Homo sapiens: one gene and its partner. The protein of the gene in region 1 interacts with the protein of each later gene in a pairwise test. Each region holds a gene or a part of one and is shown in the gene's direction. Other genes may lie near its edges.

The links. The genes of interacting proteins can lie anywhere in the genome.
Region 2: the proteins of RPS6KA6 (region 1) and ZNF746 interact in a two-hybrid assay, tested with the Homo sapiens proteins (one large-scale study listed by BioGRID and IntAct).

The regions. Positions count from the first base shown.
Region 1 is NC_000023.11:84,185,967-84,189,713, reverse strand, and holds the start of RPS6KA6 (ribosomal protein S6 kinase alpha-6), read left to right. Parts: upstream 1-1,514; 5' UTR 1,515-1,814; coding exon 1,815-1,895; intron 1,896-2,254; exon of another isoform or gene 2,255-2,350; intron 2,351-2,366; exon of another isoform or gene 2,367-3,521; coding exon of another isoform or gene 3,522-3,653; intron 3,654-3,747. UniProt on the Homo sapiens protein: Constitutively active serine/threonine-protein kinase that exhibits growth-factor-independent kinase activity and that may participate in p53/TP53-dependent cell growth arrest signaling and play an inhibitory role during embryogenesis.
Region 2 is NC_000007.14:149,487,750-149,491,396, reverse strand, and holds part of ZNF746 (zinc finger protein 746), read left to right. Parts: intron 1-3,647.

The DNA.
Region 1 (3,747 bases):
ACTGCACTCCAGCCTGGGCAACAGAATGAGACTCTGTCTCAAAAAAAAAAAAAAAAAAAAGAAAAAGAAAAAAAGTTGGCCCTAGTTAATACTGTCAGTTCAGCCAAATATGAGTTTATGGGTGTGTGCGTGCACACACAGACACACACACTCTCACACATTTTCACGATTTATAGCCCCATGCACCCACTACTTTCGAAGCTTTGACTTTTAGAGAACCCTGTTCGTTAAGCTCACTTTCTCCTCGAGATTTTCAGCAGAGTAAGTGAGAGGACATTATCAGTTATCCTTGTTTGTAATTCAGTGCAATCTCTGTGGCCAGCTTTGCTTCATTAGCTCTTGAGACCAGATGATGAAATAAATGGAGGGCATAGGTCAACAGCCCTAGGTGTAGAAGGGTAAAGGGGGTGGTGTGCCTTTTATGAACGTTAGAAACCTCTCCAAGGTCCTGAGTTGGTTTAGCCGCTGTTACAGTTGCTCTTTTAAGTCTTTGAAGTGTCAAATGTGGAATAACTTTTAAACTTTCAGCTCTGAAGTGTTTTGATGAGAAGCATCTTGATTATCCCCCGTATAAGATTATACTTTATCTCTGTTATATCGCCAGCTCCCAGTACAATGTGTGGCTTAGAGTAGCGAAGTAGTAAAGCTCGCTTTGAAGAAGGTACTAAAAACTATGATTATTGTCACTACAGACCCAACATTCTCAGAGGGGGCTGGAGGATGGGCTAGCTTCGGAATCATGCCTTTGTTGCCACAAGTGGAGTTCATTAAGTGGCATATGTTTGCCTGTGTGTGTGCATGTGTGAAGAGAAACATTGTGTGTTATCAATAGTGTGAAGGCAACCAGCAGGAGCATCCTGAGAGGGACAAGTAAGGTGGGGGCTAGAGAGGACAGGTATATTTATTTTTTTAAATGGGGGTTATCCTGCCTTTACCTTCTAGGAGGATAATGTATGATGTACTAAAATCCCTGCCCTAGTATTTGTCACTAAGTATCGAAATGGGCGTGGTTTGGCATATAAGACACCTGCTCTTCGTGAGCCCTGCAAAGAGATACTCTTGGAGTCCTACCCTTACCCTGATTCCTCAAGTGCTCTGGAGGGTCCCCCAGTTCCAGCATCCTTTTTGAGAATCCTGCCGCCCGCCAGCAATGCTGCTCCGTGGACTTGAGAGGGCCTGCTGAGCATGTGTGAAGAGCGCTGCGCATGCTCCGTGGAGTGGGCAGGTTTACCGAGGCGCTAGCAGGGGCTTTTACTACTGTTCAGTCGCCTCCCCAGCCCAGCACGCCCCCCTCCCCTCTATCCCACCACCCACCACGCGGTCCCCCGCATCCACCCCGCCCCTCTATCCCGCCCCCTTCACCCCAAGCTGGGGAATCTCCATTGACGTTTGGGTGACGCCGCTGTGCCGCCGCCGTGGGGGGGTCCAGGCGCCGCACAGGTAACGCCGCCGCTGCCGCCATATTGACAGAGCAGGGAGCGGGGAGGGGACCCGAGGAAGTGGGGTGTTGGGGGAGTCACCACCGAGCGGCTGTCGTTGTGGTGGCAGTGGTGAGCGCGAGCCGAGCGGCAGCTCTTGGAGAGGCAGCACAGAGTTGTCTTCTCTATGGGAATCACCGGGCGGCGGCGGCGGCGACCCCCAGCTCCCAGCCTCTGAGAGACCCGGCGGCGAGGGCAGCGCTCGCTGAAGGCGGGGCTGGGGGTCGCGGCGGCGGCGGCGGCGGCGGCGGCGGCGGCGGGCCAGTTCAATAGACAGGATGCGCGGCCGCGCCAGCGGTAGGCGGCAGCTCCTGTTTGAGTGCTCCTGAAGGGGAGATGCTACCATTCGCTCCTCAGGACGAGCCCTGGGACCGAGAAATGGAAGTGTTCAGCGGCGGCGGCGCGAGCAGCGGCGAGGTTAGTGTGGTGGCCAAGACGGGCTGGAGCCAACCCCCGCCTCCTTCCCCTCAAGACCTTGGCTGGGGACGGAGAGAGGAGAGGCGTAGGGCCGGGAAGCGGGCTCCCGGGCAAGCCCCCTTGATGCTGCCTCCACTGCCCTTTCGCTGGGGAGCGGGCGGGGATGAGACGGCGGGCTCGGGCTTGCGGAGTGAGTGCAGCCTGGGCCCGGGCTCGGCCTTGGGCGGAGCGCCTGCCTGGCGGGCCACGCCAGAGTTGTTGTGACTAAGTTTCTTCACTTTCCGACCCGAAGGGGAACTGGGGGACTGGCGGGGTGCTGTGCCTGACTCCGCGCGTCCCTTTTTCTCCGCCGCGCCTAGTTTGCTGGCTGGGAACATTTTGGGGGACAGCTGCGGACTCCAGCTCGCTGTTGAACCCCGGACGCTTTACGAACCCAGTGCAACAAACACACCAAGGTGACTAAGTAACTCTGGGGACATTTGCACATAGGCACGAGTGTTCCCTGGTAACAGCTTTCTCGTTTCTCTGTGGCTTGTTATGGTTCCTTGTAATGACCCATGTCGAGATACACTGGCGACCTATCTCCAGTCGCCAGGTTTCAGGTGATGTTCTACTGCTTCCTCTCAGGTCCCCTTGATTCTACTGCACTCTTGCTCCACCCCTTCTCCTTTCCACAACCGCTGTCCCTGCCCCGTTGGTCTGTAAAAGAAGACGCAAAGTAAACCCCAGCCCTTATAAATAAGTCGAATCTTTGGTAAGACTTAGCGAGGTTCAACCAAAATACTTTGGTTCACCTCTCTTCCCACTCTTCTTACTCTGAAACTGTTCTGGTTGGGCTTTGGTCAGCTGTGCAGTGAGAACTTAGATGTACACAGGTGCTTTGTTTTTATTGTTGTTATAAAAGCGGGCAGCATTTAAACACAAAAACGTGTCTTTTGTGATAGAAAGTTGGATCCTTTTCTGATAACTTAATCGACTGCGTACTACTCCAGTAGAGGCCACCATACACCTCCTAAAAATAGTTGGTGAAATTGATTCACAGTAGGATATTTTGAGGTAAGACTCTCAATCCTCGACATCTAAAGGGTGCAACTTTGTCTTCAAGTACTTGCTCCATTTAAAAAAAATACACATTTGGCTGTTGTATGATTACCTTGTTTTTTTTTCTTTAAATTTTTTTGTTATTTATCAACTAAACTGGGGTTAAGATTACATGCTAGAATAACATGTGGTAAGGAATATAGTGGAAATAAATTCAGAAGTACCCTAAATCTGAACCCTCTATACTTACAGGAAATATTTTACTAGTAAACCAAGCAATTCCAATATACGTTTTAATATTTTACATCTCGTAAGAACAAGATAAATGAATAGGCGTTCCTTTCTTGTTGAAATGTGGGAATGCTAACTGTTTGCACAATTGTCTAGCAAGTCTATTGAAGGGGAGAGGAACTTTGTTATATTCATGTATGTAACTTACTGAACTTATAGGCATTTAGTTTATAAAAACAGTTAAATGCTTTGATATAAGGATGGGATGGGAGGTGGGAATCCTTTTGCATGCCTACTATTTTATTATTTCTGTTAACTTTGAATGTAGTATGTTTTAAATTGTAATTACCACATATGGTTTTTTTATTGTTTGCAGTATGTTTTAGGTATTGTAGAGATTTAACAATGGGTCTCTCTACCTCAGCAATTTGGAAAAATACTCGAGTGGAAATTGTTAATCCCTATGAAGTAAAACGAAAGGTGAAGGTAATGTGGTGAAGATAGTATTTCTGCCTTCTTTCTCTAAAACAGTTATGATTGGTTAGATTTAACCCTGCAAGTTACTTAATAAAAAATATTA
Region 2 (3,647 bases), on another chromosome or scaffold:
GTATTTACACCATGTGTGGAGGCTTCCCTCACTTCCACAGCATCATTCAATGAGAGTAAAGAGGGGCTGGAAATACGCTGGTTGCTGGTAAGACCCTGTAACACTCTCTAGCTGCACCGTATGATGTTCAGCAGCATCCGTGGCCTCTACCCACCAGTAGACAAGATGAGTAGACACAAACTCCACTGTCCATCCTGAGCCTGTTGGCAGGGATCTGTGTGGCGTTTATCCCTGTCCCCTTTGTCTGAGAAGCCAGGACTCCCAGCTCATCCCTTGCCACATTTGGCCTGACCCATCCCCTTGTGAGACCTCACCTCCCCTTCTCCTCACCTCCTGCACATCCCTCCACTGAGCCTTGTGGGACTCAGGGCTCAGCAGACCCGCCAGGTCCTGAGTGTTCCCTGCTCGGACTGAGCTCCAGGGGACTGCAGCCCTCTGAGTGCTTGTCATCCTCTTCCCTGCCTCTGTCTTGAGCCCAGGCCCACTGGGACAGGGTCCTCACCCCTCAGATTGTGCCTCTGCCAGCCTCAATCCCTCTCTAGAGACCTTGCCTTTGGGTCCCAGGCCTTGTCTTTTTGCTACTTCTGCAGACCTTCCCTCTCTTCTCAACACTCTTCCTGCCCTCAGTCTTGGCCATGGCAGCCTCCTTGTTGATTGTCCTGTGCCCCCCCAACCCATCCCACAGCCATCCGTGACTGTGACGACAGTGACTTTACCATACCCACCATCTCCATCTCCAGCACACCACTCCCTGGCCGCCTCCTGCCGTCCCTTCAATTCCGTCTGGTGTCCTGATTCCAGCAGTTTTCCAGTCCTTCAAGACCTGCAAGCCATCGACCCTGCTGCCTTTTCACTGCCCTGACTCATCCTCATTTCCCTCCATGCCCACCATTGTGGTCCCCCCTTACACACACCCTCAGCACTCTTGCCCCTGTTTTGTTCATTGTATCCACTTAGTGAAATCCATCGGTGTTCTGCACCTGCAGCCAAGCAGCTGCACGTGGCTGCAGAGAACCAGGTAAGCTGGCTGCTGGTGTCACGTGACATTCATGACCAGCGACTTCAGTGGGCGCTCTGCCACACAGTCACACCGTGTCTCCTTAGCCCAGGGGCCAGCAAACTGTGGCTGAGGGCCAAACCTAGCTCATCTGTTTCTGTATGGTGCACAGCTGAGAACAGTTTTATATTTTAACCCGTTTTTTAAAAGAGAAACGCACCACTCACACAGCCCTCTCCACGCCATCTGCCTGCACCAGTGCCCCCTTCTCTGCCTTCACTTCTGTGACTGCTAAACTGTCAACCCTCCAGCCAAAGCCCCACTTCGATCTGGCACCAGATCCCACCTCATGCCATCTTCTCAAGGGCAATACAAGCAATCCTGCCTTGACCTCTACCCCGGCAGCCACTGCCCGCTTGTCTGTTCCCCTTTGTGGCAGAGCCCTTGGGGACATCTGCGCTTGCTGTCTCCTGCACCTTCCCCCCCACTCTGTTACCCCTTCCACCAAAACCTCTCCAACCTCGGTTACCAGGGCCCTCCGTGGTCCTGAATGGTCTGTCTTCTTACTTGGCCTTGTCCCCTCTACTCTGCCACGTAGGCCCGTCATCTCCTGCCAGCCCCTCTCCTCCTGCCCTGATCCCCCAGTCTTGCCTCAGCCCAGCAGAGTAATCCCTTTTAGACCCAAGTCCTGGCTTTCCATCTGACCCGCACCGTCAGCTCACCACCTCCACTTTTCTCTCACTCTGCCCAGCTGCAGAGTGCTGTTCCCTGGTGCTGTTCCCTCCGCCCTGTGCCAGGGCCTTCGCAGTGCCCTCTACTGGGAATCCTCCTCAGGCAGGTCCCACCTGCAGGCCTTTCGTGTCATCGGCACTGCAGGCCCTCCCCACCCAGGACTCCAGGCCTACTTTCCTGCTTTGGGTCTTCCGTGTTAGACAGTGTCACATAATATATATGTTTCCTATTTATAGATTCATCGTATGTCAGGTCTCCTCCATTAGAATGTCAATTTCAAAAGTATAAAAATTTTTACCTGTTTAATCATTTTAGGAACCTAGAGTATTGCCTAGTACAGAGTAGGAATTCAATAACTATTTGCTGAATGTATGCTGTTTCAAAATTTAAAACGTGTGTGTGTGTGTGTGTGTGTGTGTGTGTGTGTGTGTGTGAAATAATGTATTTCTGATAGCATTTAAATTCCTTTTTAGGTCTCCCAGGCCTCCCTAGGAATTTTCTGTTTATTCTTTCTATCCACATTTTAAAACGTCTGCTGTGTACTTTGGTAGCTGTAAACAATATATAATACGGTTTTTTGTGTTCTGAAAAATTACATAGATGTCATTATATTTATCACTCATTATTCTGTATTTCAGACTTATCCATGTTGATACATGTAGATCAAGTTCATTCCTTTTAACAGATGCTTAATATTCCAGAAGCAACTATATTGTAACTTATTTTCCATTCCTCCACTGATTGGCACTTAAGCTTTTTCTGATTGTTCACTCTCACAAGCAATACTGTAGTGAGCGTTCTTGCGCCTGTTTTTTTGTGGCCCTGTGGGGATGCTGCTCCAGGGAGTAGACCCAGCGGTGGCCTCACCACGTCGTAGGCTTGATTTCATCTCTTCCGTTACTGTATGGCCCTCCCCAGGGGTACCCAGTGCCAGCGGGTGCTCCTAGAACTTGCTTCCTAACGTCTGCCCAGTTTCCATAATTACATTTTTGCCGACCTGATGGGGGTGAGATGGCCTCTCGTTTCAACTTGTATTTTCCCCCTTAAGTTGCACGCCCTTTTTATACGATTATTTGGCTGCTTCTCCAGTGAGTTGTCTTCTGTTTTTCTATTGAGATATTCTTCATTTTCTTCTTGATTCAGGGCTTCTTTGTATGTGTTCTAGATACAAATCCTTTGTCTATTATTTGTGTTACAAACATTTTCTCCGTGTCGGTGGCAGGTCTTTAACGTTGTAGTTCTTGTATGGAAGTTTTCACTGTTGAAAGAGTCAAACATGTCAGTCTTTTCCTTTATGATCTGTGCTTTTTCTGTAGTGAGATATCCTTGCTTACCTCACTCAAGGTCAGAAAGATACTCTTCTCTATTTTTTTTATAAATTTTTAAAAGTTTTGCTTTTCAAATTTAAGTCTTTAATTTATCTAGAATTAAAATTTGTGTAGCTTGCAAGGGAGGGTTTCAGTTTTTTCTCCCACAACGATGGTCTCATTTTCCAACAAAGTTTGCTGAATGTGTTAGCTTTTCTCCACTGATTTGTGATGCGATTCTGTCCTGAGCTGGTTTCTGCATGTGCACAAGTCTGTTTCTGGGTGCTTGCTTCTGTGTCATTGGTCTCTTTGTCAGTCTCTGCACCAACAGCTTGCTCTTTTAGCTTCATAATAAGCCTTGATATCTAGTAGACTAATCCTTCTCTGCTTGTTCTTCAAAAAACTGTCTTGGCTATTCTTGGATATTTGTTCTTTTATATGAATTTTGGGATCTGTATGTCAAGTTCCTAAGAAAATCCTGTTGGAAATTTGATTGGAATTGCATTGACTTTACAGTCTAATTTCTGGAGAATTGCTCTCATGACAACATTAGCCTTTCTACTCATTGGAACACTCATTTATTGAAGGCTTCTATGTGCTTGAATAAGATT